Regions from separate parts of the Homo sapiens genome. Here all the other regions are linked to region 3. Evidence: fine-mapped expression QTL. A gene starts in region 3. Each other region holds a variant in brackets. All regions are shown on one strand. Distances are between the middles of the regions. Region 1 overlaps FOCAD (focadhesin). Region 2 overlaps HACD4 (3-hydroxyacyl-CoA dehydratase 4). Region 3 holds the start of HACD4 (3-hydroxyacyl-CoA dehydratase 4). Region 4 has its middle 9.5 kb from the start of IFNB1. Region 5 overlaps FOCAD (focadhesin). Region 6 has its middle 9.6 kb from the start of IFNB1. Region 7 overlaps HACD4 (3-hydroxyacyl-CoA dehydratase 4).

Region 1 (4,000 bases), 75 kb after region 3:
CAAGACGTTATGTTAAGTGAAATAAGCCAGGAACAGAAAGTTAAATAGCACATGTTCTCACTCATATGTGGAAGCAAAAAGAAAGTTGATCTCTCAGAAGTAAAAAGTAGAAGAGAGAATACTTAGAGGCTAGGAAAGAGCAGGGGGAAGAAAGAGACAAGGAGAGACTTGTTAAAGGATACAAAACCACAATTAGATGGAAGGTATAAGTTCTAGTGTTCTATACTACTGTAGGGTGAGTATAGTTATCAATAATACATAGTTTCAAGTAGCTAGGAGGAGGAATTGAATGTTCCCAACACAAAGAAATGATAAATGTTTGAGATGAGAGACACACTAATTACTCTGATCTGATCACTATACATAATATCATCAGAACATCTCTATGTACTCCATGAATATGTATAATTATTCATCAATTAAAAATTTTTTTTAAAAATTTCAAATTTACTTAAAAAAAAAACCAACCTCTTAAACAGTAAATAAATGTACAGATGTTCAGACCTTCTGGCAATTATATGCAAATGAGAGCAGTCTTAAGGTATCATTTTATACCTGACTGGTTTTTATTGTTATCATTTGTTTTTTGGGCTGCTTTTTAATATGACATTATAAAAGAAGGAATTTATTCTTTATATTGTTTTATAAGTACTGTTACATAAAGTGACTCATAATTCTTACAAAACTCTATAAAAAACAGTCAATTATTTTCTCCATTTTACAGAAGTGGTCAAAGCTTACAGACACAGTTTGCCTGAAGTTATACAGCCAGTAAGTAGTGGAAGTGGGATATGAACCCAGGCAGCCTGACTCCTATGCTTTTAACCTCTATGTTTTATATTTTTGCAAATTCATACAGGGCTGAGGTACTGAAAACTGGCAAAGCTTTTTGAAGGGCAACGAGGCCTGGCCATCCCTATAGTCACCAAATCCTTGGACTCCTGCTCACTACATTACTGAGAATTTATCTGAAGGAAAGCTGTAGCAGAAGAGAGCTATATGCATAACGATGTTCACTAAAGGCCAGGTATGGTGGTGCATACCTGTAATCCACTTTGGGAGGCAGAGGAGGGCAGATAACTTGAGGCCAGGAGTTCAAGACCAGCCTGGCCAACATAGAAAAACCCCACTAAAAAAAAAAAAAAAAAAAAAAAAAAAAAAGAGAGAGAGATATCTATGCTATCTATCTATCTATCTTTGGGCTTGGTGGCACTTGCCTGTAATTCCAGCTACTCAGGAGGCTGAGGCAGGCCAATCACTTGAGCCTGGGAGGCAGAGGTTGCAGTGAGCCGAGATCACGCCACTGCACTCTAGCCTGGGCGTCAGAGCAAGACTGTCTCAAAAAAAAAAAAAAAAGAAAAGAAAAGATGTTCACTAAAATTGAAATTTTAAAAATGACCAATACGAAAATGATTAAGTTTATTATGACTTATGAATTTGATGAAATATTCTATAGTCATTTAAAAATGATCATTATGCCATGTACAGTGGCTCATGCCTGTAATCCCAACAATTAAAGAGGCTAAGTCAGGAGGATTGCTCAAAGCTAGAGTTTGAGGCCAGACTAGGCAACATTGTTTCCATCTCTACAAAAAGTACAGAAATTATCTGATCCTGGTTGTATGTACCTGCACTCCTAGCTACCTGGGGGGCTGAGGCAGAAGGATCACTTGAGCCAGAAAGTTTGAAGTTGCAGTAAGCCATGATCGTGCCAC[C/T]GCACTTCACCCTGGGTGATAGAGCCGAGACCTTGTCTCAAAAATAATAGCTGTTATTATACAATTGTTATGGTGATATATGAAAACAGGGAAAGTTTATAATATAATATTAAGTTCAAAAATACAGGCCAGGCACGGTGGCTCACACCTGTAATTCCAGCATTTTGGGAGGCCGAGGCAGGCGGATCACCTGAGGTCGGGAGTTCAAGACCAGCCTGACCACCACGGAGAAGTCCCGTCTCTACTAAAAATACAAAAAATTAGCCAGGCGTGGTGGTGCATGGCTGTAATCCCAGAAGCAGCAAATTAAGTAATATCCAGAAATGATAATAGCTGTAGAGTCATGGGATAATTGGTGACATTTTTCCTTCCAAACATTTTCATGAGGTTTATGAAAACAAACCTCATGAAACAAAAAAGGAATCAAACACACCAAAAACATATGCTATTGACAAATGTCCAGAAACCAATGCAATAGGATTCTTTTCTTACTTCCTCAAGGCTTTTTTTGGAAGACATGGGTGCTAGTTATGTCCATTTGCATGTAAAGTCATTACTTTTTTTAAAATAGGACAATAAAATAATATACATTTTATGGTACAATATAACACATACACATACATATAGGAGGACATTATGAAGGACATATTTATAATGGCTATCTCCAAGTGGTGACATGACAGAGGATTGTCTTATTTTCTTCTATATACACTTTTAACTTAGTATTATACAGATATACTGACTTCTGATAATATTTTTTAAAGAGTTGTACAGGTAAACTATTTCTAAATTAAAATACTCAAAAATCACACATAACCTTGGCAACCAACTCCATGATTTCATCAGAAAACAGGACAGCTTTCTCGTATTATTTATTCTACTCAGAGTTCACTAAGTCTGTTCCCTTGGCATATTTCCTTCTTAACAATTACCTCTCATGGTAATAGTTCAAAAATGACTGAAGGAGCATATGCCTACCTGTACTTCGTATCCAAGCCCAATACTTACACACGCAGATCACTGACCAATTAGCCCATATCAAGAAAGAAAGCCATTCATAATGACTATTACGTGGACTTAAATATACTTTGCTTAGTTAATACTTCTTACTGTGAATTTTTAAAGCCTAATAGGAAAATATAAGCTTAGAAAGTGTTAGCCACATTCCCCAGCAATATAATAACAAAAATAATGCTATTACATAGAAATATCTAATATTAGCATTAGAAAGAATCACTTTTATTAAGTACTTTAAATATGTTTCTAATGTATTATAAAAGAAGTGGATAAAATCTTGATGAGATATGAACAGCCTATGATCTTGAGAAAATCAGAAATCAGACAAAAGAATAAAAGTAGAAAAGAAGCAAAAAAGTAAAAGTCAAAAGTCAGAGGTTCTTCAGGGGGAAAAAATATCCATGTTAGGAGGAATTAGATGATGAGCAAAGATTTTAAGGCTAGCGTAGTCAAGAAATGTTCACAAGAACAGATAATAATGACGACAAAAGATTAAGGAACAATATATCTGATAGAGGAATTCCAGGGCTATGAGAGAAGAAAGAAGAATGTCACATGGTATAGCAAAAAAAAAAAAAAAGACCCAGTTATAGTCAAAACCATGAATTGAATTATTTAAAAACTGAGGGAATCTCATCTATTTAGTATCTTTTTAAAATGTGGGTCTGCATGAAAGAATGGATGCTATGAACATCTTATATGTTCTATCACATGAGTACTAAAGTCAGTATCCTAAGTGAGAAAGCCCTAAACATTAGAAAACAGATTAACAGATTCACTATCTCAAATTTGATTGGCTAAATTTGAGACCACCATGCCCAAACTCATCCTAGCACAAATGTGGATTGGGGATGGCCCATCACATTTCTTTCCTCTAGTGAGTTGCTGAAGTTAAAAGTAGCAAGCAGAGACAATGAAACCATGCCATCCCTAAACTTTTCTGCCTATGCTAAGCATTATTTTTATTTTCTAAAACCATTTATTCCTCAAAAGAGTTCACTAAAGTTGCCATCCTTCCTATCAGCAGTCCCACCGGGCTCTGATGAGTGACATCCAGACATTTAAACTCAAAAGCTGCTTCAGAAGGGAGTTATTAAAATTCAAATGAGCTGGGTATATTGAAGAAGAAAACACTCGTTTGCATGCACACCTCCGCATTTGGCCATCCCATTTAGCCCCACAGAGCAGGGTCTGGTTTTGTTTTTGTAAATGGGCTTTGGAGGCGGAGGTCAGCCTCCCACGGCCCCCACTCCTCTGGGGTCATCATT
Region 2 (4,092 bases), 24 kb after region 3:
AAATCTCACCACGAAAAGTAAGCGAGGTGGTAGATATGTTAATTAGCTTGATTTAATCATTCCACATTGTACACATATATCAAAATATCACATTGTGCTTCATATATGTATACAATTATGATTTGCCAATTAAAACTTAATCAAATTTAAAAGAATATATAAAGGAATAAGGTAGAAATATGACTAATCCCTTCCTAGGAATAAGGGGTGGATAAATGTATAGGAAACTTTTGCATTCTTGTTATTCCATAATTCTAATCCTTGTCTTTTCTAGGAAAGCCATGTTCTTATATGGTTGCCATACAACCCTTATTCTTTTATTAACTTCATAAACTTATTCTTGCAATTACAAAATAAGGTATATGCAGAAAATAGTCTAGAGATATATATGACAAAAATGTCAATAATGCTCTGGATGGTGGAATACAGATAATTGTAATTTTATCTTTCTGTGTTTCTGTATATGTTAGATGTCCCAAAGTATAAAACTGCGCAGTTAAATAAACCTACTAAACTTTCGATAACTTTAATTTTAATAATTTTAATAACTATAATTTCCCATCTGACAGATATAAGACAAAAACAAAGCTTATGTAAATAACAAAATCAACTAATTATACTGATAAAATGCTAGAGACATAGGTGCGGCCTGTGTTAACCTTAAACTGCATATTTGGTGTCAGTGGCAGATCCTTCACTGATGCTACTCATACCTCTGCTTGGCTCTAACAGTTGTGAACTCTTGCCTTTTCTTCATCTTTCTCTTTTTAAAAACTTTTTATGTAGGGATAATTTTGACCCATAAGAAATTGCAAAAATAGTGCACCATTCCCATGTACCCTTCACCCAGCTTACCCTAATGATAACATCTTACATCATGTTAGCATATTAACATTTCATTGCATGAAATGTTACCAAAAATATCTATACATGGGATACAATGTTACTGAACTTTAATCTTTTTTTTACCTGATACCAGCCCCCTCCCTCAAAATAATTTAGGCCAGCATTTCTCATAGAGTTCTTCAAAATACTTATTAAATACTACTGGTGGTTAAGAAGGAAGAAGGAGATATTCTAAGGCCAGTTACATTGAGGAAAGGCTAGGTGGTATTTTTTTATTACAGAATTTCTCACAATGTTAATATGTGTTCTACTATGTTAATGTGTGTTGTGAAACTCTAAGAGGAAAATATATGCACCATTTTCCAAGTTCATCTCTCTATCACCCCTATTTGTGGCTAGGTGGACAAATGTATTTTGAGATAACATTTTAAGAAACATTGTAAATTCTTCTGTAGGCACAATAAGGTATACCATGGACAAACATTCAACAAGTCATACTGCTGTAAGCACCTTGCCAACTTAATCATTTCACAGATTTCTATATTAAACTAGGTTTAGCAAAAAGATTCAGCAACTATTACAAAACTGTCATTATCAAATTCAAAATATCCTACAACTATGAAGACATATATACACATCCCTGTAACAACTTAAGGAGGAATACCTTTATGATGCCTTTCTTTTTTAACAGCATTTGCCATCTATCAATCGCTGCCTTATTTTGAATCATTTGGCACTTATTCCACCAAGCTGCCCTTTGACTTATCCATCTATTTCCCATATGTGCTGAAAATATATCTCATGATGCTCTTTATAGGTAAGTGGCTTTTTTGGTCTTGTTTTTGCATTTTTCCTGTACTTTTTGGTTAGTGCTTGCCGTCTACCTTAATATACAGGTTGG[T/C]AAACATGGGAGAGACCAAAGAGGAAGCCTGACATCATGAACTAGATCTTGCTAGTAAAGCCCCTGGAGGTTATAATGCTTTTTGCAGGGCATCATGGGATCATATATTTCACTTTCACTGTACAAATAAGAACAATTTTACTATCAGAAAATATAGCTGCATTATGTATGAGATATAGAAGTTTTGACCATGTGCACAGGTATCTACAAATAAAACCTAGATGTCAAACTAAGAAGAATTGGCTATTTCTGATGTTTCCATTTATATCCATTTTGTTTCTTGTTTGTTTGGCTTTTCAAGCTGGCACTTCCTATCAGGCAAATGGGAGTCGGTGTTACAGACTCAAGAGAAATGTATGGAACAAAAACTTACCCTTGAATAAATTTGATCATTAAACCTAATCATTTTCCAGGAAATTGGGGAAAAAACTTTCACTATTAAATTTTTGTTTTCCCAGCTCTAACCTTCACAAATCTCCAAAATAATGATTATCTCTAGAAGGTAACAGATATCAAACATATGAACAACATATAGAGAGAAAAGACAAAAATGTGAAACTTTAGAGGAAGGTGGAGAGAGCTATGCTAAAGAAAGGAAGACAATTCCTTGCATTAAAAAAAGTAGGATGGAAGAGTTTGATTTACCTCTCTTTCTGCATAAAATCTGGACACTTCTTTAAACATTCCTTCTCACATCTCCCTTGCAAGTGTCTTCTCCCTGGATTTGGGCAGCACTCTGACTGTATTTTAAAAGCATTGTTTCTTCCAGAGAAATAGTTAACCTTACTTACTTTTGCAACTTCTTTCTCCATATTAGGTATGTATTTTACCTACAGTCATCTATACTCAGAAAGAAGAGACATCCTCGGAATCTTTCCCATTAAAAAAAAGAAGATGTGAAGTACAGCATTCCAGTGTGACACGAGAAAAGACAGGCTGTGGATTCAGTGCAGTAAATAAAACACAGGAAGTATTCTGGTGGAAAAATACCTTGTATTTGATAAAAATCCATTACATGAAATAACTGCACATACCCCCAAAACTCTAGACATAACAGGCTATGTTTTTCACACATTGTATTTTTAAGACATATATATTCTCCATACCCTGCTTCACCAAAATTCCTGCTTCATTTGGATTTTATACAAGTTATACTTACATTGTATGAAGTCTGATTATTTTCCTGTAAGTTTAATGAGAAATAGGAGATTAGCTGCAATAGATTCAATTAAATTAAGAAACCAAACTTGATAACCTAAATTACATGTATTCTTTTTCACTTCCAAGTTCCCAAATAGATCTGTAGGAGAAGAGGGATGGAAAATATATTCCACAGTTGCCTAGAATAACATATTTCATAGACAGATGTCTGTCTTCAGATCTAATAATACTCACCCTAAACATTAGATATGTTTAGAAAATTAAATATCTTTCCAAGCCCTATGTCTTAGCTCAGGTTGCTATAATAGAACACCATAAACCGAATGGCTTAAACAACAGCAAACGCTTCTCACAGTTCTGGAGGCTGGGAATTCCGCTCAGGATCAAGGCATCAGCTAATGCAGTTTCTGGTGAGGGCCCTCTTCCCAGTTTGCAGATAGATGTCCTTCTTTGTCCTCACATGAGAGAGAGATCAACTCTCTTATGTCTCTTATAATGGCACTAACCCCATTCATGAGGGCTCTACCCTCATGATCTAATTACCTCCCAATGGCCCCACCTCCAAATACCATCATATTGGAGGTTAGGGCTTAACACATGAATTTTGGGGGAACACAAAGATTCACTCCATAGCATTCTGTACCTGGTCCTACAAAATTCATGTCCTCCTCACATGCAAAATACATACATTCCATCTCGACAGCCTCAAAAGTCTTAACTCATTCCTGCATCAACTCTAAAGTCCAAAGTCTCGTCTAAATCAGATGTGGGTGAGATTCAAGGTAGAATTCATCCTGAGGTAAAATTCCTTTCCAGCTTTGAACTTGTGAAATGAAACAAGTTATGTGCTTCCACAGTACAATGGTGGGACACACAAAGGGTGGACATTCCTATTCCCAAAGCAAGAAACAGGAAAAAAGGAAGGTGTAATGGGTCCCCAGCAAGTCCAAAACCTAGCAAGGCAAACACCATGAGATCTTCAGTCTTAGTAATAATCCTCTTTGGCCTGATACTCTGGCTTCAGGACCCAGTGAGGCAGAGGTATTGCCCCCAGGACTATGTTGGAGGAGGATGACCCCCATATCACCAGGCGGAAGCTGTCAGGCCTGTTGAAACCAAGGCAATGACTGCCCCTTTTGAAACTGAGAAGGTACCACTGATGTTCTCTGAATCATTGTTCCGGG
Region 3 (4,103 bases):
GGATGTGAGGGAGGCCAATTACTCCTCACCCAGGTACTGGAAAATAAGGAATGGACAAAGAACACTACTGATTAGTAGGAGATCTGGAAAGGATGGGATCAATCGAATTTGATTGGATGGGGTGCTTAATGATGACTCCCCAATTTAAAATCAAGTGGCTAGAAAAATGGTGGTCTTTCTGTGGGAAATAATGATTTAGGAAGAGAGATAGTATGCTTATTTTAAATAGGTTGAATTGGAAGACGTTCCAAAGATAGTCCAAACAATAGGACTTTCATGAGGAAATATCCAAAAGCTGCTCAAAGGCCAGAGATAGTATTCATAAAAGAAGAAAGGGCTGAAAATAATAGTCAAAAGTTGTCCACATGGAGATAAAGCCATGTGTGGTTGTCTATGCTGAGGGATAACATGGTGACAAATGGATGGTGACTAAGGGCAGACTTTTGAGGAAATACAGCAGGAGAAGAAGACCCATCCAGAGAGACAGAAGGGACATAAGGCAAGAGACGTAGAATATGTAGAACTTCAGGGGTAAATGGCAGACAGACAGAACTGGTAAAATGCAGCAGACCTGTCAATGAGGATGTGGATGCAGGGGCTGTGTTTGGTGACAAAGGATCAATTCTTCTGGGCAGGCTTTCCACCTTCTCCCTCCTGCCCCACTGCAGGCCATCTGGGACTTTACTTTCTCTCTTGCTGCTTAACCTGATCAGAGATAGCATTGATAATGGGTTAGCCACCAGTTTACCCTTTAGATCAAATGTTCTGTAAAAGCAAGGACCGTGGGGCATCATCCTGCAAGGTGATACAGGATAGGGATTCGGCGAAAAATTAACATGCTCGCGGACGGAGCAGTGTCAGGAGAGTCAAACTGTAAGGTATTATGGAACAGGAAGATGGTAGGAAATGAAAGAAGCACCTGATCAGAGAAGGCAGGCAGGGAGTTATTAGAAGATTCCATTGAGAGAGAAACAGAAAGAATACAATGTTTAATTATATGCTAAGAGAGAGTTGTCTATGTCCCTAAAGTGCAGTGAAAGCCAATGGAAAGGAGGGGATGACGATGCAAGAAGAGGCGATGGTTAACTACTGATGCAGTGAGTCTGAGAAGGGACTGGTAAACACAAAGTTGGGGTTAACCTCCGACTGAGGGCAGGGTATGAGAGAAGGTGCAGAGAAATGTAGAGGTGAGAGGTAGGCATAGTGAATGGAATGGACTATGAAAAAAGGAAGCCACGGCCTAATGGGAAACAAACAAGAAATCCCACCAACCTTGAAGTTCTGATACTGCCATTTTATCAATTGTGTGACCTGTGCCAAGTGACTTAACATTTTTTTAATGCCTCAACTTCCCTTTTGGTAAAAATGGGGGCGCTAACTTCCAACTCCAAAACCAGGTGCCATTGTCCCACTTACTTGCAAGTGCCTTCTTAGATGTTTCTGTTTTTGTTTTAACGTTTCCCTTTCTGGGCAGAGGAGCTTGAAGATGGGCTGGATCTTATTAGCAAAGCAGGAGGGTGGGTCATCTGTGTACGGAGACAGTGATGTCATAAGCCTGAGAGATCACGAAGGGGTTGTAGCAGTGCTGGGCATAGGCTAGAGAAATTAACACAACGTGAATAAAGATTTGCAGGCACCAGTGAGAACCCAAGGGAGATTAGAGAGCAGGGAGGCCTGATAGAAGAGGAATCAGGCCCCTAGCTGAAAAAGTGTTGGGGAGGTGTGCTACAAACTTCGTTTTATTTTTATTTATTTTTTGAGACAGGATCTCGCTCTGTTACCCAGGCTGGAGTGTAGCCGCGTGATCTTGGCTCATTGCAGCCTCGACCTCCCAGGCTCAAGCGATCCTCCCACCTCAGCCTCTGGAGTAGCTGGGACCACAGGCCCGCGTCACCATGCCCGACTAATTTTTGTACATTTAGTAGAGACGCGTTTTCGCTATGTTGCCCAGGCTGGTCTCGAACTCCTGGGCTCAAAAGATCCTCCCGCCTCGGCCTCCCAAAGTGCTGGGATTATAGGCATTAGCCACTGCGCCCGGCACAAGCTTCGTGTCTGAACCTGGCTCACCGGTGGGCATTGAGCAGAGCCCACCCTGGAATCCACTCATCTCGGGAGGTTTGGGGATGGGCTTCAGCGAGTTCGGAGGCCCCGGAAATCGCCCAGATGCATTAATTTCCAGAAGGCTTGCAAGGGGGTCTCAACACAAAGATTAGGAAGCTGTAACCAGAGTTTGGTAACCCCACCGGGAACGCGAGCCGCCTCCCAGCCTTGCGCCCTGACGCGCTCTAGCAGTGCTGCAGAAACTTCGAGAACTTCGTTTTCATCTCTTCCCCAACGCACGACCTCGGGCTTTTTCTTTTTGTAAACTGCTGAGTGTGGAGAGGCCCCGCCCTTCCGCGCCCAGCCGCGGGGCCGCCCCTGCCTCCTCCCCGGTACTCCTTCCTGGACCGCGCTGGAAGCCCTGGCGGCGGCGGCCCATGGGGCCCTTGGCGCTGCCCGCCTGGCTGCAGCCCAGGTAGGGCGCTCGGCCGAATCCCGAGGGGAGGGGGCGCGGGTGGAGGGCCTGGAGGCGGGAGCTCCCCTCTGCGGCGGGCGGGCGGGCGGCACCCCCCGCCCGCCAGCAAGGCGCAGCGCTACCGTGCCCAGGCACCCCTTGGAGCTCATGCAGGTATTTGCTAACTTACCCCTCTTGACCACCCTAGGAAGCAGGCTCTGTTATTTTCTCCATTTTACAGTTGAATGGGAAGGACAGGCTGCATGGCTACCCCTGCCCTTGTGAGCCCTCTGCCAGTACTTCCCTCCCCCCAGGAGCCTTCTCTTGACTTTCTCAGACGCAGAGTTGCGGGGTGATTTTTAGATGTAACAGCCGTGGAAACACCTATCACACGTATAGATTTCAGGGCCTAGTTCCGGCGGGGAACAGATTCAGTCATATAGCGGTAGGGCCTGGGGGTGTATATGTTTAACCCACAAGCCAGGTAATTCTGATACAAGCTGAAGGAGGATTTCCTCTTCCCAAACCCTTTAGCAGTTCCTGCCTTTATAGGGGAGGATGTCCCCAAATAAAAATCATTCTGCCTCCCAGCTTATTTTCCTTGTTTCTAGGAGGTTTCACATCTTCAAGGAGGAGTAAATCTTGACCACACTGGCAGGGCCACTCCCGTCACTCTTCTGAACTCCCAGGGAACATTTCAAACAGTGCTTTTCCTAACTCCCTCAAACCATCTATCTGTCAATCTTCTCTTAGTCATCTCCCCAGCAACTCACAACACATTGTTAAACCCAGCTTGACTTCCCTCTTCTGGTATGAGCAACTAAACTGCTTTCGATATGTATCTGATGAAGGAAACTATCTACCCTTGCAAAATGTTAATAGGCAGTGGCAAGATGTTAATACTAACCTCAATCACATAATGTGTTCAAAAGTCAGGTGTGTCCAATTACTGAATTACCCAACATTTGGATTACTCCCATCCCTACCCCCCTTCAGAACTAAAACACTGTGTCTCAAGTTCTGCACTTAGCAAGCTGAGCTACTGGAACACATAGTGACATGTCAACCACTCTGCACACATGGATTTTTTGTTGTTGTTGTTGTTTTGTTTTTTATTTTTTATTTATTTTTGAGAACAGAGTTTTGATCTGTCGCCCAGGCTGGAGTGCAGTGGCGCTGTCTCGGTTCACTGCAGCCTCTACCTCCCAGGTTCAAGTGATTGTCCTGCCTCAGCCTCCTGAGCAGCTAGGTAGCTGGGATTACAGGCATACGTTACCACATCCGGCTTTTTTTTTTTTTTTTTTGTAAGTTGCCATGTTGGCCAGGCTGGTCTTGAACTTCTGGCCTCAAGTGATCCAACCCGCCTTGGCCTCCCAAAGTGCTGGGATTACATGCCTGAGCCACCGCGCCCAGCCTGTTTTGTTTTTTTAAAGAATATTCAAAGCCACCTTCGCAGTGGTTTCTTTTATTCCTTGGTGAGCAGCAAGGTTAGAACTTTATCAAAGATGAAAGCAGATTTTGAAAAAGCACTATATTTGGTTTTAAGCAAACTCACTATACAGATGGTCCATGACTCACAATTTTTTAAACTTTGTGATGGTGTGAAAAT
Region 4 (4,103 bases), 36 kb before region 3:
TGGGGATCTTTTGCAGAAAGGACTGCTGTCCTCACTCAAGCAGTTGGTCTCCTTCCATCCCCATGCAGAAGGGAACTCTCTCTCTCTTCCTTTTTCTAAAGAGAATAGCAGGAAATTCCCATTTGCTCCTTTGCCAGACTCTACGGAGAATATTTTCTCCAAAGGTTTTTGTAAGCAACTGTCTGAATCATGAGTCATCGTTTTTCCCTTGGCAAGGCTGCATTTCCTTCTCTTGAGCACTACATTTTTATCCATGTACTAGCAAGACAGCCCTGTGTGCAGTTTCCCTCTCAAGTCTGACACAAGCTGATTTTGTTATCTCACAGGAATGCTTAAAAACTAAAATGGCTTACATTACTTAATGGAAATACACAGCAAATTTCTCTTTCCTTTCACTTTTTAATTTCTTGGCTCATTTTCTTTTTATGAAAGTCCAGAGGTAAAACAAATAACTTTCAAAGCAGAAAATGATTTACTAATCTAGAAATGCATGAATTGAAAGTCTGTGCATTGAAAGTACAAAGTTTTTTTTTTTTTTTTTTTTTTTTTTTTAAGTTTCCTATACTCTGATGGCAAAAACACAGGGCATGAAATAATACAAACCTGAGAGCTACTGTGGGTTCTGCCACTTTGTACCAGTATGGTCTTGGGCAAGTTAAATAAATTAGAAACAATCATACCCCAAACTCTTCAAGATTTCTATGAGAAATAAATGCAAAAAATGGGATGTATGACTTGGTCCAACACAGGGCCTTGTAAATACCACGGGATCTCACTTACATGTAAAATCTAAAAATGTTAATCCCATGGAAACAGAGCATGGAATGATGGTTGCCAGAGCTGGGACAGTTGGGATGGGCAGGAGAGGGCTGGGGAGATGTTGGTCAAAAAATACAAAATTACAGTTACATAGGAGGAATAAGTTCAAAGGATCTATTGTACAGCATGGTGATTGTTAATGATAATATATTGTATTCTTGAAAAATGCTAAGGGAATGGGTGTTAAGTGTTTTCACCACAAAAAATAATAACTATGTGAGATAATGCACTTGTTAGCTAGATTTAACCATTTCACAATGTATGTATAGTTCAAAACCCCATGTTGTATGCAATAAATACATGCCATTTTTATCTGTCAATTTAAAAAATAAATTAAAATAATAAAATGCCATAGAAATATTCAAGGGTTATTAAAATAACTTCTTCCATTATATTTGTTATAAGCCTTATAAATAGTTTAAAGCATGATATATTTTATATTTGGCGAACTGGCTTTAGACCAATTGGTGTCTATCAGGCATATGTGGCACCTTAGCATCTATTAAGGAAGAGTAGGCCACACAAGGGAGGAAAGCAATATTCAATACAGCTTCCTCCCCTCCAGGCTGCAACGGGATCTCTCCTAAACTCCAATATACCTTTGAGTTCCATGGATTATTTTCCTACTATAAGCCACACCCCTGAAATAATAAATGTGGTATGCATGAAAAATTCATTTTCTTTCTGTTTATCTAAATTTGTTCTTATTTCTTATGGTTTAATTGTGTTTATTAAGTCGCAAGTGCTCAACCTCCCTGGGTTATATTATAATACTTTCTGTAATAGTTGACAAGGAAGGGTTCATTTTCAAATTGCTTCATTCAAAACCCTTGACTTCATCTCAGGCTCCCATTGGCTTGGCAGGTATGTATAAAGAAGGAAGTGGGAGAGGTAAATAACCCTCCATTGCATCTACTACCTGTGTAGGACTTGTCCAGAAAAACTCCTGGCATATACTATCAATAAATGGTAGCTTTTTTTCTTCTTTGCAGGCAATTGTTACCTATTATTCTCTTGCTGAAATATAAGAGCCTCTATTTTAAAGCATCCCATCCCTATCCAAAGTAAAATTTCACAAAATCTGTAGAAATTCCCAGATAGTTCAGACAATTATCTCTGTAATTAAAAACAACACCATGACACCATGATCATGTAATTGTCTGGTCAATAAGAGCCTAACACAAAGTCCATGGGCATCTCAAATATATTCGTATAATTAGAAAATGACCTAGGCTCTTATCTTCTGACTGCATGTCCAATAAGCTTTCTCTCTTTCATTGCTCAGTTTCACAGACATTGTTGCCTGAACTCAGCCTCCCACTGGAAATCTCACTAGCTTTGGTGCCCCATACTGGACTTCTAGACTGATCTCTCTCCCTATCTCCTGGTAACCCAGCCACATAAATGCAGAAATGAAAAGGATGACAGGAACAGTGTTTCATCTGTTAGATGTCTTGTCACAGGGAACCGTTACTGGTCCCTAATAAGCCCCTGTTCCCTATTCTGTTCTTACTTCCTTATCCAGTCATTAATTGGGAATGGAAAAACACAGGCAACCCACCAGCGGAATAACTTGGGAACACTCAGACAGGGCCACAAAGCCTTCTAAAGGTTCTGAGAAGGGATTATGGCTATCAAGCTGTGGTAACTTCC[A/G]AGGAGACATCATCTTATTCAGCAGCAGCATTTTCACCAACAGTCTAAACATTCTTCTGATTTTTCCTTTTTTCCTCTCTCTCTCTCTCTTTTTGATTTGCCAGAAGTGATAAATGATAATAACCCAAAGGGAAAACAGTGGTGGAGGGAAGCAGTGAAAGAACTATTTACATTTCTGATATTTTGACCTTAATGAACTGCTCCCATCGATCAACTGGGAGAAGACTGGACCCTGTGGAACCCACTGCCTGATTGCATCTTGCTGTGATATTAAGTGGTCACCCAGCTGGTTGTGTGTGAAACACAGTTTGTCTCCAATAGAGAATAGCCTATCAACTGAACCAAAGTAGAAGGAAATACATTTTCATTCTTTCCCCCAGGTCTGACCATGCAGTAATAAGGTCTGGAGGTGCTCCAAAACGATGATCTTCAACTAGTTGCAATATTATTTCCCTCCTGGCCAAACAGTTAACCCAGAAGCACACTAGTCATAATGCCCTCTGCATGGATTATATCTTTCTCAATACAGCATTTGAATTTCAAAAATATATATATACTTGTCAAAGTGCACATTAGAGATCTGGGGATTGATAACTTAAATAATTTGCTTTAACTGGTGAGTAAATAGCAGAGGCAAGGTTCTAAGATATGCAAAACTTTAATTGGCTCAGGCAATGGTACTATTTAGTAACTTTTTATTTATTAAGTGGAAAGACTGTATTTAGGAGACATTCACATGAGTGACAATTGAGAAATTCTTAATTTTCTGTATATTTATTTACACACTATTCATTCTACACATGTGAGTTGGACAGCTTATAACATTCAAGGCATTAGAGCCACAAGGCCTGCCCTCAGGGAGCTCAGTCCTATTGCAGAAGATGAGCAGTTAAAGGCAAGATAAGTATGTTCACAGAGGTTTTAGAGAGCTATTGAAGCAGAGAATGAAGATAAGTCCTTCTTGACGCCCAGGACTGGGTTCCCTAGCTGGCAAAGCAGACAATCACAAATATCAACCTGCTTTACCCGTAGTGATGAGCCTGCCTTCTCTCCCTCAGCTTTCATTATTTTCACCAAATAATCCACATGCCCTCAAAGAAAAGAGGATTTCAGCTGCCACCCTCAGGACCCTTTCAGCTGAAAGTGATGGAAACTCAACTCCAACCACAATATGTAAAAATGGGATCTATTGCAAGAATAGAATTGCTCATAGCATCAAAGCAATTGTTGCAGGAAGGGCAGCTCAGGGGTCTCAGAAACAGGAATTGGAGATTTTCCTCTATCAGAAATCTTTTCTCCCCTCCTTTCTTTATACTTCTCCCTGAGGAGGCAGGGGGACTGGGCCACTCAGGAATCACACCCTTATTGCTCCGTGATTAGAGAAGAGAGAAAGAGTATTTTACATATATTATTGCTAACCCTTGAGTTGCTATAAGATAGCATTTTCATTGTGTTTGAAAGGAGGAAAGCAAGTAGTAGAGAATTAAGGAATCTGCTTCAAGTTCAGGGATCAGTGAAGAGCAGGGGAAGTATTCAAGGACAGGCTGGTCTTTCTGATTCCACAACTAACTAATTGCACCACACCACCTATCAACATTTGTTGAATGAATGAATACTTGAATACATAACTC
Region 5 (4,000 bases), 180 kb after region 3:
GGTTACCAGTAAAGCCCATATGGAGACAACTGTACACCTACTTTATACACTGAAAAATATAGTTATTGTTGTTATAACCAACAGAAAAAAAAATAGTGAACCTCAGAAGAATCAGAGCCTTTCCTTCTAATTCCTGTGCTGTAAAAATGACTTTGTTCTTTTGCAGAGGAACAGAGAGCTATCTCCTAATTTTACTTTCAAAAGCTATTTCTAGAAATTCCTGAGAACAGCCTACTCCTTTTGTCCTGATTCTTTACTCCAACAGAGGAAAGCTTTATAAAAAACCTTTAGGCTATGAAAACTGCCTTATTTGCCCTTTTCATAATGAAGGCAAAAGAAACTGCCTTCACAATTAAAGGACTCAAGTCATCATCACGCAGTGAAGCCCTCTTAAGCTAATTCAGCACACACAATTCATAAAACAGGATGCTTCTGTTACCAAAACACAATAACGGGATAAGAGAGATTTTGAAGAGACACAATCAATGGAGCAGAAACAATGAGAAAAATAACATTCTTTCTTATCCTAATAATATAGGGTTAGGGGTTGTTAAGTATTTTAAAAAATGACTAGCACAGGTTTATTTAAGCAATTTCACAGCCTTTTAATGTCTGAGACTAGTTTATTATCAAGGCAGCATTGTAGGGAAAAAAGAAACAAACAGATATAGATATTGAGGTACCTTTTTAAAACTCACTTATAATCTAAATGACAGTAATTCTGATGATTTTCTAACATAGTTGAACAACTTTTGTCCTGTTCATGGCAAAGAATATAGATGAACATATCTAAATCCCAAACTATGCCTTAGAGAATCAAAAATATTTGGACTTGTAGTAAAGCTACTCTCATATTAACAACCCGTAACATCACCATGACATTTCCAAAAGAGGTGTAACAGAGACTTTTTAAATTATTCTGTATTTCTGAAAAACTATTTGGCACTTTGTAGTACATACTTATAATTCTAATATCTGAATAGAACAGGTTTAGAATTGTGTGACACAAGTAAAAACAGAGACATTTATTAAACAGATTGATCTAGACTATGAAGCCACCCAAGAGACTCACTACTCAACAGCCAGAGACGTTAGGTTTCTTTTTTATTCCCCCTAGTGAGAAATTACAGGTGCCTAGGATACTTCCACAAGGAACAGTATCTTCCAATGCAAATTCCATTGATTTCTCTGCAGGAACAGAAAGAATGACACAAAGAACTCCCTATAGGGACATTCACTTTTCAGTTTTGCTAGATTCTGTCTGTATGAGTTATCTATTTTTTGGTGGACATTCTTCCAGGATGAACTAGCAAATTCATAGGAAGAATATGTCAAAAAATTCCTTGACAAGAAAATGATTAGTGCTTTATTCCCCCACAATAATCAGAGGAAATTTTTTTCTAATGGTCACTCCTTCCTCTTTTCTAATAGAGGTTAGACTCCAAGATAATAAAGGAAAATAACAGAAATTAAATCAACATAGCTTAAAACTCAATAAATCGAACTACTGGGAAGTTGTTCAACAGATACAAAATTAAAAGTAAAGCAAATTGAGTATTTACTAGCAAAAAGAATAAAAATATCATCCATCTAAATGTTAAAAAGGGCTAAAGAGGCTGTAAGT[G/A]TACTGTAGAAAGAGACTGAGAAATACAGTTTACTGTCATTTCATATTTAAGAATCAATATGCTGTGTATCAAAAAAATTGATGAATTAGGCAGTCAATTCAGAAACACTAAGACCACTTTAGAGAAAAACTTTAAACTTCAAAGATAAAGTTTTTAGGAATACCTCTTGAGTTTAGTCCACTTTACAAAGATAGAATTCCACGAATGCATTTCTAAGTAACCAATGTTGAGAGTTCCTGAAACATAACCTGATTACACGTTCAATGAAAATGATTCTTCTATCCTCCCACCCCCACCCTATGTATCCACAGATCTGGGGATAACAGAACTGATGAATTCTTCATGGATAAACAATAGGGAAAATCAGTCTTTTAAGCCTGAGTGGCTCACACAACTAACTACAACTCCCTAATAACAAGGAACAAACATGCCTGTGGTCCCTTTTCATAGAAACAAACAAGTTCCTTCTTAGGAAAATCAAGACTAAAGACAAAACCTATAATCTACAAGTTCAACAAAGAAAAAGGAAACTTTTTAGTAAAACTTCTTAGGAATTACTTTGCTCTTCAGTGCTAGAAAGCTAGTGATTCACAACAAAAATGGTTCCCCCAAAGCAAGGTTTAAACAAGGATAAACAAGATTTTTCCACCCAAACAAAAGCAGCATCTAGCACAGTGCTTGGCATAAAAAAGCACTCATCTCAAAACAAATTTATAAATACATGGTGGTAACTGACCTATCACCAGCTAGGACAGGGCAGGGCACATTTTCTGTCAAGGGCCAGAGAATTAATATTTTAGGTTTCAAGGGCCACATGGTCACTATTACAACTACTCAGTTCTACCACTGTAGCAAGAAAGCAGCCATGGACAATACATAAACAAATGAGCATGGTTGTGCTCCAATAAAACTTTACTTACAAAAAAAGGTAGTGGGCTGGATTGGAAGAGTCAGCCATGGTTTGCCAACTCCTGAACTAGACTATGTGATTATTAACTGGATACAGCTTAGCAATTAGATTAGACCAATGCTTCTTTAACTTTAATGTACACTTGAATACCCTGTGGTGAAAGGATCTCATCACACTACAGATTCTAACTCAGTAGGTCTAGAGTAGAGCCTGAGATTCTCGTTTCAAGCTGCCAGGTGACACAGAAGCTGCTAGTTATAAAACCATACTTTCAGTTACCAGATATTAGACTTTATTAGTGAATTTACTTTAAAATTTCAAAACGGGTAGGAAATTAGAAATGTGACAGCAATAAGCCCTGGATTTGACTTGAATTGTTCCAATATCAGGAATTCTGATGTGTTGCTGCCATAAAGCAGTCAAATTCACAATGAATTCCAAAGTTTAACCTTCCGCACTGCTCTTCCACTTAAAAGAGGCATGAAGATAAAAGTCAGAACATTTATGCAGATATCTGGTTTTAGAAACAGGGACATCATATTTTCTAATCCCTTTCTTTACAGATAAAGACGCTAGATGGAAAAAAATTTTAATATACCAATGGATCTAAATAATAACACCCCCCCACCCCACGAAAAAAAAAAAACCAAAACTCTTTCATGGTTTTCAACTTTATTTGAAGGTGGTAACTTTTGAAATTATTCCTACAAAATATGCAAAGGAATAAGTTTTCACTAGAGATAGACAAGACAAACCCTGACACTTAAACCAACTTAAGGTTATCTAATATTTTCATAAGACTAATTATTTATCTTCTTTATTGTTCAGTTCAAGAAATGTGAACTGAGCAACTGCTATGTACCAGGTACTAAGCTGGACGCTTTGCAGGAGGAGGTCAGTTGCTAAAACATACTTTCTATCTTCGAGGACCTTAGCATCAGGTAGTAGAGACTGATACATAAACATGCATTACAAAACCTTGTGTTAAGAGAAACTGCAGAAGTTTCATACTAGATATAGAGGGGGAAATTACCTGGTTAAGGAAGAGAGCAGAGATCAGAAAGGAGTTCCTGGAGGAAATAATATTAAAGAGCAATTATGTACCAGATGCTCTGTTGTGTCTTTTTAATTTCCAATTATACCAATTTAAATTGTGCCAATTAAATCATATATGATAAAAGAAAATCAAGTTTAAAGCATAACTGAAGGTAGGAGTCTTTAAATACTTTTTGCTCATGCAACTCCTAAAAAGTTTTGAAAAATCATGTAAATTGGCATTTAAGAAGTATAAAGACTGCAAAAGATTTATTTTCTAACATATGGTAAATACTTCCATTTTAAAATAAAATTGCTATAACATTCTACTAAGTTTATACAATTAGATAAAATGCCATAGCAATTTATATCTACCATCATCCATTTCATAAAATCCACATAAAAAATGCCTCTAACACTCCAAAATTGT
Region 6 (4,103 bases), 56 kb before region 3:
TATAATATAATATATATTATATGTATTATATTGACTTTAATATATTATATTAATATATATATTTCAATATATTAGATATATTGAAATATATATATATATATTTCCACTTTAAACTTCATTCTGCCTTTGGGTACCATGGCCAAACATTCAGTTTGCCAAGAGAGACCTTGTTTGGAGACTGCTATTTTGGGTTATAGTGGACTCTTGAACAACATAGGGATTAGGAGTACTGACACCCGTGTAGTTAAAAATCTGTGTATAACTCTTGATTCCTCAAAACTTAACTACTAGTAGCCTACCTTTGACCAGAATCCTTACCTATAGCATATAGTTGATTGACATATATTTTTGTTATATGTATTATATACTGTATTCTTATGATAAGGTAAGATAGAAAAAAGAACATGTTAACAAGAAAATGATAAGGAAGAGAAAATATATTTACTATTTATTAAGTGGAAATGAATCACCATAAAGATTTTCATGCTTGTCTTCATGTTGAATAGGCTGAGGAGGAGAAGGGAGAGGAAGGGTTGGTCTTGTTGTCTCAGGGGTGGCAGAGGTGAAGAGGTGAGGAGGTGGAAAGAGAGGCAGAAAAAGCAGGCACAGTGTAACTTTATGGAAATAAATCATAATTTCTGTGTAACTTTTTTGCTTTTTTGTTCCTCTAAAAATTTTTATATATATGGTAGCAATCATTCTTCCATCATTTGCTTTAGTTGCAGTGCCCATGTTGTAGAGGGGTCCATGTCATAAAAGAAGCCAAAAGCAGTCTTGAATAATCAGAACTCTTCTGCCAGATTGTCTAATGCCAATTTGTTTCCTGGCACTTCTTCTCCTATATCTTCTTCCTCATTGTCTGGCACTGGTTCAGAAGCACTTATCTCTGTCAAGTCATCTTCTGTTAATGCCTCTGGTGTGGTGCCTATTAGCTCTTGAATTTCTCCAAATCTATATATTGAAACCTATCTCATTAAATTGATCTTCAATCTCTGATATCCTCTCTTCTGCTTGATCAGTTCAGCTCTTGTGTATGCTTCACGAAGTTCTTGTGCTGTGTTTTTTAGCTCCATCAGGTCCTTTACATTCTTCTCTAAACTAGTTATTCTAGTTAGCAATTCCTCTTTTATCAAGGTTCTTAGCTTCCTTGCATTGGGTTAGAACATGCTCCTTTAGCTCGGAGGAGTTTGTTATTACCCACCTTCTGAAGCCTACTTCTGTCAATTCATCAAACTCATTCTCCATCCAGTTTTTTCCCTTGCTGGTAAGGAGTTGTGATCCTTTGGAGGAGAAGAGGCATTCTGGTTTTTGGAATTTTCAGCCTTTTTGCGCTGGTTTTTCCTCATCTTCATGGATTTATTTACCTTTGGTCTTTGCTTTTGGTGACGTTCAGATGGAGATTTTGTGTGGTCATCCTTTTTGTCGATGCTGATGCTATTGCTTTGTGTTTGTTAGTTTTCCTTCTAACAGTCAGTCTCCTCTTCTGCAGGTCTGCTGGAGTTTGCTATGGGTCCACTCCAGACCCTGTTTGCCTGGGTATCACCAGTGGAGGCTGCAGAACACAAAGATTGCTGCCTGCTCCTTCCTCTGGAAGCTTTGCCCAGAGGGGCATCTGCCAGATGCCAGCTGGAGTGCTCCTGTATGAGGTGTCTGTCAAACCCTGCTGGGATGTGTCTCCCAATCATGAGGCACGGGTGTCGGGGACCCACTTGAGGAGGCAGTCTGTCCCTTATCAGAGCTCAAGCACTGTGCTGGGAGATCTGCTGCTCTCTTCAGAGCCAGCAGGCAGGAACATTTAAGTCTGCTGAAGCTGTCTGTGCCCACAGCCGCTCCTTGCCCCAGGTGCTCTATCCCAGGGAGATGGGAGTTCTATCTATAAGCCCTTGACTGGGGCCGCTGCCTTTCTTTCAGAGATGCCTTGCCCAGAGAGGAGGAATCTAGAGAGACAGTCTGGCTACAATAGCTTGGAGGCGCTTCAGTGGGCTCTGCCAGGCAGCTTTTTTTACACCGTGAGGGGAAAACTGCCTACTGAAGCTTCAGTCATGGTGGATGCCCCTCCCCCACCAAGCTCGAGTATCCCAGTTTGACTTCAGACTGCTGTGGGGGCAGCGAGAATTTCAAGCTAGTGGATCTTAGCTTGCTGGCCTCTCTGGGGGTGGGATCCGCTGAGCTAGACCACTTGGCTCCCTGGCTTCAGCCCCCTTTACAGGAGAGTGAATGGTTCTGTCTCACTGGCATTCCAAGCACCACTGGAGTATGAAAAAAAACTCCTGCAGCTAGCTCGGTGTCTGCCCAAATGGCTGCCCAGTTTTGTGTTTGAAACCCAAGGCCCTTGTGATGTTAGCACCCAAGGGACTCTCCTGGTCTATGGGTTGCAAAGACCATGGGAAAAGCATAGTATCTAGGCCAGATAGCACCATCCCTCACAGCATGGTCCTTCACAGCTTCCTTTGGCTAGGGGAGGGAGTTCCCCAACCCCTTGTGCTTCTCGGATGAGGCAACACCCCACCCTCCTTCTGCTTACCCTCCATGGGCTGCACCCACTGTCTAACCAGTCCCAGTGAGATGAACC[G/A]CGTACCTCAGTTGGAAATGCAGAAATCACCCGCCTTCTGTGTTGGTCTCGCTGGGAGCTGCAGACCGGAGCTGTTCCTATTCCTACAGTAAGTTTTATTCGTTCATGTTTTTATGTTATTAACTAGAATCCTTTTACTCAGCTTGAAGAATTCCTTTTAGCATTTCTTGTAAGTAGGTATAGTAGTGCCATCCTACCTCAGCTTTTGTTTGTCTTGGAAAGTTGTTATTTTTCCCTCATTTCTGAAGGTCAACTTTGTTGGGTAAAGTAATCTTGGTTGGCAAAAGAAACTTTTAAATATATTAAACTAAATGAAAATAACACAACTTAACAAAATATGTGGAATCCAGTGAAAGCAGTGCCTATAGGGAAATTTATAGCACTGAGTGCTATATTAGAAAAAAAGAAAGTCATAAAAATTAATCACCTAAGCTTCTGCTTTAGGAAAGTAGAAAAATAAGAGCAAATTAAATCCAAGGTAAGTAAAAAAAAAAAAAAAAAAAAGAAATAAAAATTAGAGCAGAAATCAATAAAATTGAAGACAGTAAATCAATAAAGAAAATCAACATAAAAAGTCTGGTTCTTGAAAAGATATATAAAATTGATAAGCATCTACCTAGGATAATTAAGGAAAAAAGACAGAGGACACAGATTACTAATATCAAACATAAAAGCGGGAACATCACTGCAAATTTTATAGGCATTGAAAGCATAATAAAAGAATACTATAAACTATTCTATAACTACAAATTTGATAAGTAAATAGAATGAACCAATTCCTTGAAAGACATAATCTGAAAAATGTAAAAAGAAGAAATAAACAATCTGAATAGCCTATATCTATTAAATAAATTGAATCAGTAATTAATAACCTCTCAAAACAGGAAGCACAATGCCCAGATGGGTTCACTAGTGAATTCTATCAAATATTTAAAGAAAAAAAAATTGTATCAACTTTCTACAATCTCTTTCAGAAGACAGAAGCAGAGGGAATACTTCCTAAATCATTCAACTAGGCCAGCATTACCTTAATACCGGAACTAGAAAATGACATTACAAGAAAAGAAAACAACAGACCAATATCTCTCATGAACAAAGATACAAACATTTTCAACAAAATATTAGCAAAAAGAATCCAAGAATGTATCAAAAAATATACACCACAACCAAGTAGAATTTATTCCAGATATGTAAGGGTGGTTCAACGTTTGAAAATCAATTAACGTAATTTGTCCCATCAACAGGTTAAAGAAGAAAATCACATGGTCATATTGATAGACACAGAAAAAGCATTTGACAAAATTTAACACCCATTCATGATGCAATCTCTCAGTAAACTAGGAATAGAGGAAAACTTCCTCAGCTTGAATGTACCTTCCTCTCAATTTTGCTATGAACCTGAAACTCCTCTTAAAAAATAAAGTTTTTCATTTAAAAAGAAAACAAAAAACATGGAGGAGCGTTGATGTATCTCATTTTAGACCAATCAGCTATGGATAGTTAGGCGACAGCACAGATAGCTGTTGTACTT
Region 7 (4,065 bases), 33 kb after region 3:
CTCTAGTGAGTTTTTCATTTCAATTATCGTACTTTCCAGCTCTTGAATTTCTTTTTTGTATCGTCTTAGATTTTCTCTATATTGATATTACCATTTTGTTCATCCATTGGTTTTTTGACTTTTTCCGCATGCTCTTTGGTTCTTTAAAAAACATCCTTAAGGCAGTCGTTGTAGAGCCTTTAGTGGATCCACCATCAAGTCTTTTTCAGAGATAGTTTTTGTTTTTGTTTTCATTTGAAAGGGACATACTTTCCTGTTTCTTTGTATGCCTTGTTATTTTTTTGCTGAAAACTGAACGTTTCAATCTAATAATATGGTAACTACATCTCACTAAGGTCCCTAAGTTAATGTTTTTTTTTAAACTATTCCTTACTTTGCCTGCCTTGAGCAAGTTGTCAAATGTGAGAAACTGTATTTATTTCAGAAGTACAAATAGATACAATCTCAATGTCCAAAATATTTCCCCAAAGAAAGAATCTTACAATTATTTAAGTTTACTTATGGAGAAAACATTTTATGGTACTAAAGTGTTAAAGTGATTTAAAATTAAGGTTAAAATATGCTAAAAATTATCTTCCTTTACCCAGTATCTATCTTCCACTTGTTTATTACTGCTTTTTAATAATTATAATGTTTCCCGTTGGTTCGGATAATTTTAATATTCTTCTCGGTCTGAGTTATATGCTAATGTTGATATGACATGGTTCTCCAGGGTAGTGTTCAGATTGTATGTTCAGGGAGCAACAGCCACAATTAACAAGTTCACCTGTTTAGAATGCAGATTCCAGGGCTCCACTAAAGATAGTTGAATCAGAAGCTCTGGGAATAAGCTCAGGATCCTACCTTTTGATAGACTCCTCAAATGAGCCTCATGCACAGAAAAGTTTGAGAACCACTGCTTTTGAGTCTAAATTATTTCAGCTTTGGACAGAAAGAAAACTGCTAAAAAGAACTACTTATATAAAAGCCACCAATGTTTTCAGAACAGGGATGATTTTTTATGGCTTTAAAAATCCTTAAATAGTAGTTCTGAACATGTTTTTAACATGCCAAGTAAGAATTACTAACTAGTTTATTTTTGCTAAGGGTAGCTGGAGTTTTAAATCTCATCTAAAATAAGGTTAGTTAATTCCATATGAAAGTCAATTAGTAAAAGTATGCCTTAATTCATCACATACATGTAGGTGTCTATTGTTACTTCATGGTATTCAGCTGAATGATGGGGTTCTTGTGAAAGATAATGTGGTCTGGAATTAAGAGCACTAGGTTTGATTTGAGATCAAGCTCCATTATTTACTAACTGAATGACTCTTTGAGTTCCAGTTTCCTTAACCACTTAAAGTTATTATGAAGACTAAATGACATATGGTAAATTAAACTTTTGCAAATTATAAAGGGCTTTGCAGAAGTAGGACATTTATAACATGTTCTGTTCTTACTTCATGATGGTTTAGTGATTTATATTCTCTGACTGTAAGTTCCATGAGAGCAGGGATGACACGTTTTGTTCAGATTGTACCCCAGAAACTTGTATAGTGGCACATAATAGACACCCATAATTGTGTGTGCAACTCTATCTTTAAAGAACGCCACTACTACATCTAGAAATATATTTCAAGAAATCTATCGGCTTAATTAGGTAATGAATTTCAATTGTATCTCAAAG[C/T]GTTCCTTATATTTAGAAGACACATAAGTTTTGTTTTTTTCTTTCAACTTATATAAGTATCTTAACATGCTACTTCTAGAATATTTTAATTGTTAAGAACAATTTCTTAATAAACTTCCACTGTCTTCCTGAGTCCCCATATACATGTCAGAAATGTGTTCAAGCATTACAGCTATTTATTTGCAGTGAAACACACAAAAGTGATAACATTTCAATAACATTTTATAATTTATAAACCATATTTTTGTATTATTTATTTTAACCCTCACAGCTACTTTGTGAGGTAGATCATTTTATCCAAAAAATAAAACCAAACCTCAGGGAATAATCATTTTTATTCAGTTTCATATTTAATAATTTAGCTGGAAATGATCTTACAAGTTCCCTATGTTTGACAAGAATCAGATGAGCTTTCTAAGTTGTAGTTTTAAAGAAGTTTTTACTATTTATGAAGATTAACAGATTAAATGCAAAACTCACAACTTTATAAATAATATATATATATATTTATATATATCATACATTTAAGATGAGATTTTAAAGTTTCCAGGATCACAGTAATGTATTTCCCCCAGAAAATACAGAAGCATGTTACCTCGTCCAGGACCACAGCAGTGATGACACACATTCGTAAACGAAGATGATGCTGTTGGGTGTCTTTCCACAAGAGTGATGAAGAATGTGAACGGTTCCAGCCACACTCTGTCCCCTAGTTCCATTTGAAGTGGTTCCTATGAATAGGCTGGTTGGGTCAGAAATACAAACTGACCAAACAGGGACCTACCCTCGGGCTTTAACGAAGGCCCCATCTCTTTACCAAATGATCTGATTTCTCTTCTAAAACAGCAGTTTACTAAAGTGTTTGCTAAACCTCTAAAACTGCTGCTTGCTTTCAAAGTTACTAAGTTACTTCAAGATAGTAATTGAATCCTTAAATCTGACTCCTTATATAATTACAATACCACTATCTCTGGTTAAAATCATTTTGGAGACATTAATGTCTCACAGTTAACTTAAAAAAAGATTATTAACAGCCTTTTGGTTACCATGGAGCCATTACATTACAAATAAAACACAAAGAGGATTTTAGGCACTTGCATGGATCTTAACATCTGTTCCAAATGTATACTTTTCAAATCAAGAGTCAGAGTGTTTAGATAGTTCTGAGAGACCTATCAGGGCTCAAACCCCACACATTAATTTGTTAGTACATCTCAGCATGCTATTTGTCTTGGCCACTTATGTTTTTAAAAACTAACATTAGATGATTTGTAAGGAAACTTTCCATAAAGCTAGGAACATCTGGCCTAAAAATGCAGAGACTTCTGGTTTCTGGAGAATAAACTGAAAAATCCTAAGGGAATAATTTAATTCTCACCTGAGGTCATGCAGATAGCAAGAGAAAAGGTCTTATTAGTCTGGTGATCTATATCTTAGAATGTTTAGATGTAAGAACCTTTGGAGTTTTGAATTTAGAATCTTTAGAGGTTCCCATGAATAAGAAAATACAAATCTTATACTCAAGGCTGCTCAAAATAAAAAGAAGGAGCTGCGGAAAAAAGAATAAACATCTTATTTCCTCCCTTTTGTACTCTTCTGTTTCCTTGTCAAGGGCAGGAGCAGGGACAAAGTTTGAATGAGAAGAAACTGGGCTGAACTGAAAAGGGCAGTCTGGGGTTGGAAGACTAGGCTGATTCTTCATCTCTTTACTTGGGCATTGGTAGTCTCTGGCTGCAGACTCAAAAAAATAGAGAGTGGTTCTTTGGTGCTCACTTCCTCTTTACTACTCCTGTTTGCCATTCATGTTGCAAGCTGGCCCAGGAATCTGAAGTCCTTCAACCCATGAAGACCTACTCATTTACACTACAGACCTAAACTTCTCCGTTCCAGAGGCCTACCTATATGAGGCAGAGTTGTTTCTTTATCTGATTATAGCAATCTACATTAAGCATGAGTAAGGTTTCATCCTCTGTGGGAGTTTTCATCTTAAAGGAGGAGCTGATGAGCCTGGTGCATAGAAAGAGCAGTGGGTTCTCTGCCACTTAACTAGTTGTGTTTGCACCATTTTAAAATAGAAAATGCCTCGTTGTGGTATTGTTGCAAGAGTTAAATAATATAATACAACTGAAAGCTCAACTGTTCTGTCATTTTGATATTTGTTTTCTATCTGCTTTATAGGTATTTTGTCCCTCATTTCCTGCGTGATTGTCATCTATTGTGCTTATTTTTTTGTAATGAAGCATTTAAATACCTTTCTCATTTCCTTTTGTGTATATTCTATAGCTGTTTTCTGACACCGAGCAGTGAATGTTAGAATTCACCTAGCAGTGAATTCACCTAGCAGTGAATGTTTTGTGTATATTCTATAGCTGTTTTCTGACACCTAGCAGTGAATGTTA

The links. PIP is the estimated chance that this variant, and not a neighbour inherited with it, causes the effect.
Region 1: its variant is fine-mapped to the expression of HACD4 in whole blood (INTERVAL, PIP 0.96).
Region 2: its variant is fine-mapped to the expression of HACD4 in whole blood (TOPMed, PIP above 0.99).
Region 4: its variant is fine-mapped to the expression of HACD4 in transverse colon (GTEx, PIP above 0.99).
Region 5: its variant is fine-mapped to the expression of HACD4 in whole blood (TOPMed, PIP above 0.99).
Region 6: its variant is fine-mapped to the expression of HACD4 in whole blood (INTERVAL, PIP above 0.99).
Region 7: its variant is fine-mapped to the expression of HACD4 in whole blood (INTERVAL, PIP above 0.99).

Annotation. Positions count from the first base shown.
Region 1 is chr9:20,954,835-20,958,834 of GRCh38, reverse strand. All of the region lies in intron 35 of FOCAD (focadhesin), which reads right to left. Among named protein-coding and RNA genes, the nearest start is that of HACD4, 75 kb to the left of the region's middle. The variant C/T (reference allele first, on the strand shown) is at 1,716.
Region 2 is chr9:21,005,592-21,009,683 of GRCh38, reverse strand. It overlaps HACD4 (3-hydroxyacyl-CoA dehydratase 4), which reads left to right. Exons shown (of 7, transcript NM_001010915.5): 6 at 1,538-1,663; 7 at 2,565-4,092. The coding sequence ends at 2,647. Among named protein-coding and RNA genes, the nearest start is that of HACD4, 24 kb to the left of the region's middle. The variant T/C (reference allele first, on the strand shown) is at 1,748.
Region 3 is chr9:21,029,965-21,034,067 of GRCh38, reverse strand. It overlaps HACD4 (3-hydroxyacyl-CoA dehydratase 4), which reads left to right and starts at 2,428. Exons shown (of 7, transcript NM_001010915.5): 1 at 2,428-2,515. The coding sequence starts at 2,478. It overlaps LOC105375989 (a long non-coding RNA gene), which reads right to left and starts at 2,426. Exons shown (of 3, transcript XR_007061435.1): 1 at 2,068-2,426; 2 at 1,417-1,596; 3 at 149-705. RefSeq lists an enhancer at 2,089-2,649 and a silencer at 2,293-2,652.
Region 4 is chr9:21,066,383-21,070,485 of GRCh38, reverse strand. No RefSeq gene overlaps it. Among named protein-coding and RNA genes, the nearest start is that of IFNB1, 9.5 kb to the left of the region's middle. The variant A/G (reference allele first, on the strand shown) is at 2,473.
Region 5 is chr9:20,850,393-20,854,392 of GRCh38, reverse strand. All of the region lies in intron 15 of FOCAD (focadhesin), which reads right to left. Among named protein-coding and RNA genes, the nearest start is that of SNORA30B, 65 kb to the right of the region's middle. The variant G/A (reference allele first, on the strand shown) is at 1,625.
Region 6 is chr9:21,085,493-21,089,595 of GRCh38, reverse strand. No RefSeq gene overlaps it. Among named protein-coding and RNA genes, the nearest start is that of IFNB1, 9.6 kb to the right of the region's middle. The variant G/A (reference allele first, on the strand shown) is at 2,573.
Region 7 is chr9:20,997,249-21,001,313 of GRCh38, reverse strand. It overlaps HACD4 (3-hydroxyacyl-CoA dehydratase 4), which reads left to right. Exons shown (of 7, transcript NM_001010915.5): 7 at 1-1,805. Among named protein-coding and RNA genes, the nearest start is that of HACD4, 32 kb to the left of the region's middle. The variant C/T (reference allele first, on the strand shown) is at 1,667.